3 separate regions of the Homo sapiens genome follow, and all the other regions are linked to region 1. Evidence: fine-mapped expression QTL. A gene starts in region 1. Each other region holds a variant in brackets. All regions are shown on one strand. Distances are between the middles of the regions.

The links. PIP is the estimated chance that this variant, and not a neighbour inherited with it, causes the effect.
Region 2: its variant is the best candidate, but not a certain one, in a credible set for the expression of BNIP2 in lymphoblastoid cells (GTEx, PIP 0.85).
Region 3: its variant is the best candidate, but not a certain one, in a credible set for the expression of BNIP2 in whole blood (INTERVAL, PIP 0.51).

The regions. Positions count from the first base shown.
Region 1 is chr15:59,688,065-59,690,743 of GRCh38, reverse strand. It overlaps BNIP2 (BCL2 interacting protein 2), which reads left to right and starts at 1,424. Exons shown (of 10, transcript NM_004330.4): 1 at 1,424-1,609. RefSeq lists a silencer at 1,147-1,656 and an enhancer at 1,070-1,718.
Region 2 is chr15:59,662,015-59,664,828 of GRCh38, reverse strand. BNIP2 (BCL2 interacting protein 2) reads left to right here. Exons shown (of 10, transcript NM_004330.4): 10 at 709-2,814. The coding sequence ends at 760. Among named protein-coding and RNA genes, the nearest start is that of GTF2A2, 5.9 kb to the right of the region's middle. The variant G/C (reference allele first, on the strand shown) is at 1,504.
Region 3 is chr15:59,665,668-59,668,481 of GRCh38, reverse strand. All of the region lies in intron 9 of BNIP2 (BCL2 interacting protein 2), which reads left to right. Among named protein-coding and RNA genes, the nearest start is that of GTF2A2, 9.6 kb to the right of the region's middle. The variant G/AG (reference allele first, on the strand shown) is at 1,544.

The DNA of each region.
Region 1 (2,679 bases):
TCTTTCTTCCTTTCTTTCTCTTTGCTTCTTTTTCTTTCTTTCTTTCTCTGTCTCTTTTTTTTTTTTTTTTTTTAAGAGATGGGGTCTCGCCATGTTGCCCTGAGGTCTGGCGATCTACCGACTCGGCCTCTCAAAGTGCTGGGATTACAGTCATGAGCCAGCACGCCCAACTGAGAGAGACTATGATGTTCTCCAAACAAATCTCATTTGGTTGAAACTCTACAGCTGAGTATGGTCTAATTTGAGTAGTTTACCTTGAGTACTCTAACCATGGTCTATAGACCTGGGCTCTTCTGAGAACTGTTTGCAAATGGTTCACAGAGAGAGAGTAGAAAACTCTATGTCAATTTTGCAGGTAATTTTATGGCTGTTAACTCTAACGATAAAAAGTTTTGACTTGGACTTTGTATGTCTTTTCATTTTTCTGTTTTATTAACTTGTCAAAAACTAATTGAAAATTGAAAAAAATAAACCGACCGTTCCCCCAGTGAAGAGAAGCACTGCTGTAAAGCTTTTCACACTCAAATATTACCAAACTCTAAGGTCGCTTCTGAGGCCTAACTCCCCAAAATGATGCCTCGGATATTTTTCCTCGCCTTATTTCTTTTTTTTCTTTTTCTTTTTTTTTTTTTTTCCTTTTTCCTTTTATTTGAGACGGAGTTTTTGCTCTGTTGCCCAAGCTGGAGTGCAATGGCACGATCTCGGCTCACTGCAAACTCCAACTCCGCCTCCGCCTCCGCCCTCGCCTCCTGAGTAGTTGGGATTACAGACGCGCGCCACCACGCCCAGCTAATTTTTGTTTGTTTAGTAGAGACGAGGTGTCACCATGTTGGCCAGGCTGGTCTCGAGCTCTTGACCTCCGGTAATCCACCCGCCTCGCCCTCCCAAAGTGCTGGGATTACAAGCGTAAACCACCGCGCCCGACCTCCTCCCCTTATTTCATCCATTTTATAATTCACATTATTGATCGCTGATAATTGCACCTATTGTAATGATACTGATAATTGCACCTGTTGTAATAATATTGATATTGATAATTGCACCTATTGTATTACAATATTATTATTGATATCGATAATTTCACCTACTGTAATGATCAATAAAGGCAGGCAGAAAGAAAACAAAAGTAACTGAAACTACCAGGCAGCGTCCCTGCGAACAGCAAAGAGGGAAGAAACGCCTTGAGGCGTAGTAACGCCACCAATAAGGAGTCGACGCGACGGGTCCGCCCACAGGCAAGGAAGGCCGACCCCGCGAGTGCAGGCGCGAGCGCTAGCCCGTGACGTCTGAGGGGGTTGGGGGGATGCTGTGTGGGTTTCAAGAAGACGCCACGCCTCCGCCGCCGCCACGCCCCCGCCGCCTCCACCGCCGGCTGCCGCGCCCGGAGGAGGTCGGGATGTTATCACTTCCGCCGGGGCTTCTCACTGTGTCCGGGTCAGCTGCTGCCGCCGACGCCGTACCGCTGCGGCCGGGGGATTGGGCCGGGGTCTCCACCGCCGACCGAGGGGAGCGGGCTCCGCTCGGCCCTGCTTTTTGCGACCTGGCCGTCAGCCCCACGTCGCCGGCCTGGAGGGGCGAAGAGGACGAGGGGGCCAAGGCTTCCTCCGGGGTGAGTGCGGCCTGGGAGAACTCGGCACGGTGGCTCCGGAGCTGGACTGGGAACCGGCCTAGGGGCGAAAGTCTGTCGGGCGCGTGCCCACGACGTCCGGGGAGAGGAAACCCAGAGAGTTACCCTTGGTAGGGGGAGCCATAGAACCTGCTCGGGAGGTGCTTCCTGGATCCCCGCCCTGCTTAGGTCCCCGCCCTTGGCTTGGGTCCTGTTTGTATTTGGCAGTTTGGCCCCCCACCCCGTCGCTTTTCCGTTTCTGGTAGTTGTGCTCGGGATGGAACCTTGCCCCTCCTCCGCTCCCCCACCCTTTTACCCTGGTGTGGGTGAAGTGGCTGGGCTACGATGGTTCAGTATTTATGACCAGCGTCCGTCCTGGTACAGAACAAAGAAACTTGGACTTCTGGTATGCCTCGTAACCGCGGGGAATAGACACGGAAGCAGCATAAGTAATCAGGGCTTTAATAGATCTTCCCTAGTACGCTAAACCAAATACAGAGTGTGTACGTCAAAAGCCGAGTCCCCGCGTGAATCTAGACACAACCCTTTCTGTTTAAATACCTGGCAAAATGGTTTGGATTTCTGGATGCATTTCATGCCGCTGGAGAGTTACTTGTCTGTGTCTTGTGAGCTCTTTGACGAAACAGCTTTTCCGGTGTTGCATCAAGATAGTTACGGTGCCTCCTATTTATTTAATTGAATAAACTATGTGATTGCATTTTAGTGTTGCTTTTTTCATTCTCACCTTCTCTTGATTAGGATCTCTATTTCACCTAATACCTGATTTCGTATTTTCAATTAAATGTAGTTTTTCTAACATTTTATAGGAATCTCTGCAATTGTAGAAACAAATTCTGTAATTTGTAAATGGATGTTTCCTCAAAGTTACAACTGACCTTACCCAATTAAGTTACCCCTGCAGACTAGTTTCTTGATCATTTTGCACATATTCTTAGTTCTTTTTGGTTTACATTTTCTCTAAACTCTATTCCTAGTCTTCATATTCTCTAGTGCAGCCTAATACTGCTGGGCTTAGACCGGAAGTATGACAGATCCACTTCTGCAAACGGAAC
Region 2 (2,814 bases), 26 kb after region 1:
CATGGCATTTTCATATTTTAGTTAACAGAATCATTTTTGAGGGAGTTGTTTTTCCTGCCATTTTCGTACCACCTGGATCCCTACCACAGCCAAGTTACAGGTCAAGATTTTAATATGCCATGTAATTTGAACTTTTAAGAAAGTTTATGGCTGGGCACGGTGGCTCACGCCTGTAATCCCAGCACTTTGGGAGGCTGAGGCAGGCAGATCACGAGGTCAGGAGATCGAGACCATCCTGGCTAACATGGTGAAACCCCACCTCTACTAAAAATACGAAAAATTAGCCGGGCATGGTGGCGGGCGCCTGTAGTCCCAGCAACTCGGGAGGCTGAGGCAGGACAATGGTGTGAACCCAGGAGGCGGAGATTGCAGCGAGCTGAGATTGTGCCACTGCACTCCAGCCTGGGTGACAGAGCAAGACTCCGTCTCAAAAATAAGAAAAAAAAAAAGTTTATATGCATTTGTATGTAAAGTATTTTATAATCTTTAAAGAAACAACGGTCACATTTCTTGCCAGTGTCCTCCTGCCTTTAAAAATTCTCTTTTCTGGTTGGGGAAATGATGTTTGGTAACTGTTTTTACTATGTCTGCTTCTTTGCAAAGCTTTGTCTTTAACAGAGTAATATTCTATGCTAAAATAGTCATTATTTTTAGAAAGAAAATTGTTCAGTTGCTGGTTTCTTATTTTATATATTCTTCATTAAACAGAGTTGATCAAGAACTTAATGGAAAACAAGATGAACCGAAAAATGAACAGTAAGTTTGGCATCTAGTCCAAACAAGACTGAAGAATGTGCTGATGGAGCAGTGCTGTTTCTGCATTCATAATGCATTTATTGGCCCATATTTTTATGTAACCTGTTACAAAATAGACTTGACTTTTTCATAATGGACTTTTGTATTATACAAGGGACTGTTCACTGCTGTACTGGTTTGCAAATTTCTTGAATTTAGCTCTTTAATAGCTAACTGTATTATTATCGTTTTATATTTTATATTGCTAAATAGAGAACCACACTTTATATAAAGTAGTTTTTGCATTTGTTTATTGAATGATGCATCTTCTTCGGTGAAATATTTATATGCATAAATGGCAAAGGAAAGAAATAATATATATTTTTATGTCATTGAGCAATATTTTTTAATGTGTACCTGTCTTATGGAAGAAATATGCAGGTATATAAGACCACGATTTTCTAAAGTGCATATTAGAATTTTTGTTTTTGTAAATGGTTAAATACATTTCCTGGGTAACTTAGGAAATTAAGTTTTTCATAAGGCAACAGATGGTTAAACTGATTGTCATGAATACCCAAAGATCATGTATATAATCGAAGTGTATTAGTACCATCCCAAGGTTTTTTTCTCATTTAACATATTTGTTTCATAATTCAGCAAGTACAGATGCAAGCGCATTGCACACTTTTTCCTTTCTAAACTTAAAGACAAGTCAAAAAGCCATTCTTAGAACTAGAGGATTTAAGAGGGTAGGAATTAGGGTTT[G/C]TATATATGTATATATGGGACATTTTATCTTCTGGCCCAAAGTCAGAACTTTATAAAAATCTTGAGTTTGTTCACTAATGTGAAATAAGCTATGTGTCCAGGGTATTGCTCCCCTGAGTGTATATGAGTGCTGAGTAGTATTGCAGAGAATGTGATGAGTTATTCACTGTCACAACTTTTTCTATAGAAAACAGGGGCTGCTTTTTAAACTCTCACTATGGGCACTTTACCAAAATACTTCCATATCAATTATTTGAACTCGGTAGTTGTTTGACCTAGTTAGATGTGGTGTTTATTCAAGTTTGTATGAAATCATGTTTGACAATACTGTAAATTAGGTTAATTTTGTAAGTCTTAGCATCATCATATTGTGCTGTTTTGGATAACACGTTTGTTACAAGCATTTAAACTGTTTCATTTGGTAGTACCTTTACATTGAAATAAATTGTGTTTGTGCCTCCAAACAAAAAGTTTAATTACCGACAAAATTATTTCTAAAACAACAGATTGATCTGATATTGTGTCATATACTTGAAAGGCTCATACACAGCTGGTAAGCATAATACCTTCCAAATTTGAAGGTCATGGCTACTCTTCAACCCTTCCTGTAAGGTATTTTACAAAACAGTGGCCTAGAGTAGCAAAATTGAAGTGGATGTGAGCTAACCTTTCAAGATTTAGTCTATCCTAGATTGAACACACATGTGGCTGTGACCATTCTCATGTACTTACAAACCTTCTGTTACAAAAGGGAACTTTCCTATATTTTTTGTCCTCCTCAGTCCTAAACTTGGCATGCTAACTTAAAACCAGTTATAGGAGAGAGATGCTGGAGGATTCCCAGGATGAAACATTCCTCAGCAGCCTCCTGACTTAACTCAGATCCAGCAGCTCTTGGCAGATCCTGAACTAATGTCATTACAGTGAATTGAGCCAAAACGATTATTGCTTGCTCACATTTTAGGAACACTTGTTGTTGAAGAAGCAAACTAACAATAACAAGTTAGGCATTCCTTCTGAATTTACCATATAAGGATTATGTATAAACAATTATATTGAATTTGTCATTAGATTCTATATTTGTAGACGATTTAACGTAGTCTTTCATCTGTACATCTTTATCTTGCTCAAAATGGGCTGAGGTTTTTAATAGGTGGTTTTCTACCACATTAAGTACTTGGTTCTTCAGTTTAAAAAATATGAAGAATAACTTCAACTCTTTTTTGCATTATTTTGATTTTTGATTTTGCAGTCATTGCTCCTAACTGTAGATACATGTTGCAAAAGTGATGTTTTTCTGAATTTTTTTTA
Region 3 (2,814 bases), 22 kb after region 1:
ATCATCATAACCTTAATGTTTTCCAGTGACTGAAATTCTGTTCTGATTATCAGATTCACATTCTTCCATGTAACTTCTTGGACTTGGTAGAAGGCTGTTAACATAAATAACTGAGTATTACAATGCATGTGGAAAAGTTTCTTTGTTCTGCTCACCTGAGGTTTTAGTCTATTTAATGTATGAAAGTCAGATTTATTAAGTAAATTTTTACTTTCTACATCATGTAGTAAATATTTTTGGTTTTGCTGGAAAATTTAAATGAGTTTATTTTTAGTAGCTTTTTTCAAGTTTTTATTCATTTTCATAACATGTATATTTACTGAAATAACTCTTCCCTACAAAGGTATGAAGAAGAAAAGTTTAAAAAGAAACAAAAAAGGTATATGCACACCTTGACTGGGTTGCATCTAGACTAGTCCATTTGCATTGCAGACTAACTCTTCCTTATTGGTTGGTTAGCTTGTAGACAAAGATAATAGCATTTGCAAATATAAATGTACCCCAACTTCCAAATACAGGGTGAACCCAGAGTTCCTAAGGCTGAATATGACTTGGATTCACCATGTTTTATTGCCATATATGATGCCAATTAGCAATTAAAAACCACAGACCCTTCTCTCTCCTTCTTAGTCTAAGTACTAATGGTGAAACCAGAGAAATTACTAAAAATGGTATTTGGAACACCAAATAATTTTAAGACTTTATCTGTTTCACCATTTTCTTTAAATCGCTAACTTGTGCTTTTGAAATATTTTTGCAGACTTTTTAAAAGTTCTCAATTTATTTCCCTGGGGTTGATTATTATATTTGCAATGCATATATACTTTGGCTAACCAACATTGGTTTCCTTTTATGCTTAAATTAAATGGCTTGCTAACCAGTCAAATTCTACATGTGATAAAATACCTAAAATCTCAGTGTCCCATTTAACAGTTAAACACTTCACTTTCTATTTTAAATTTAATTTTGAACACTTCTGCTTTGAGCATAACAAACTATTATCTATTGATACCTTGACATAGATGATGAAAGGCAAGGGTATAAAATACTTAGAATTTTGTATAATAATTTAGAAAAACGTAGAATTTAGATCTAGTTTGTTAGATCTTTAAAATATTGGCAATTAAATTAGCAAAACATAGTTTAATACAATCTTAAGAGTTACGGTGAGAGATTTATATGTAATTATCTTGACCATTCTAAGGAGCCAACTGTAACTAACTGGAACATTCTTAACTTTGAACACATTTTGTTTCTGTTGATGAGTGAGAATTTAGTAGACTTTGTGATAGAATCAGTTTTACACTTCTATATGACACTTCACAGTTTAACCAACACTTTAACATAGAAATGTAGACAGTGATTTTAGATCATGCTGATTTCACATTCCTTTCTAGGCATTGCTGTGCATTCGACAGACAAGTGGCTGAAATTAAAAATATGATTTGTAATTGTAGAATATTTTGAAGCCAGCTGCTTCATAGATTTCACAGTGAATTGCCTTTGTTGATAAAATATGCTGTATTAAGCCTTTTTAAAAAAA[G/AG]TTTTTAATACTGTTAAGTAATTTAGACATCAGAAAAAATATGGAATTTGTACTTTTTATTTAAATATATTGTTTGAAACCTGTCACTATTTTATCTTGATTTTTTTTTTACTTGTGTTTAACCATAAATAGAATGATTACATGTATCTTTCAAAAACGTTCTGTTTTTTGTAGTTTCTTTAGTCTTAAAAAATAATAAATTTTTGTCAATCTGAAAATGATAAAATTTAATTTTTAAATTAAATTTAGGTAGAGAGGCATGTTTTGTTTTGAGACAGAGTTTCACTCTTGTCACCCAGGCAGGAGTGCAATGGCCCAGTCTCAGCTAACTGCAATCTCTGCCTCCCGGGTTCAAGCGATTCTGCTGCCTCAGCCCCCCAAGTAGCTGGGATTACAGGCACCCACCACCATGCCTGGCTAATTTTTGCATTTTTAGTAGAGACTGGGTTTCACCATGTTGGCCAGGATGGTCTCGAACTCCTGATCTCAAGTGATCCACCCACCTCGGCCTCCCAAAGTGCTGGGATTACAGGCGTCAGCTACCACGCCCAGCCTAAACCAAACTTTACAGAAGCTAGGTGCAAGGGAGCTTATTTAAGGTGACAACTGCATGATATGATAAGTAGTGGTGCTAAGAAGAGTATGAAGCTATGAGTCCCTATGGCAGGTTTTTGGGGAGCAGGGGAAGAAGGGGCAAAACCATTTTCTTGAGGGGCTTGTGGGGAAGAGGGTTGAAGAAATGTTGACAACAGGGAGATCCAGTGTCCCCAGTGACAGAAAAAGGATAGCAGTTTAAATGTTTAAAATGTTTCTTTCAAACAACTGGATGCAAGTGTGGCCATGCAGATACAGATTGTTAAAATGTTTCAGGGGAGTTTAAAAATAATTATGAAATTAGTTGGTAAGGATATTTCAGATGTTAAGAGGATTTGATATATTTTGCATGCCTTATCAGAAATACATTCCAAATTTTTTATAACAATATTTTAAATATTTTAAAATGTTACTTTGGCTTTACCACAGACCAGGGCTTTTAGGTCTGTTTCACTAATATTCAGGTGGGCATAGTAATGGGTGATGAGAATAAAAACATATGAAAAATATTTTTCTTTATCTAATACCGGATTGTTTTAAAGGTCCCTTCATCAGTTATTCAGACCACTACAAATGTAATAGTAATAGACTGTTAGCTTTGAAGGGTTGTCTGTAATTATTATGTGGTAATTATGTAATCCTTCTAATGCCCACATGCGTAAATTTTGATATGACTG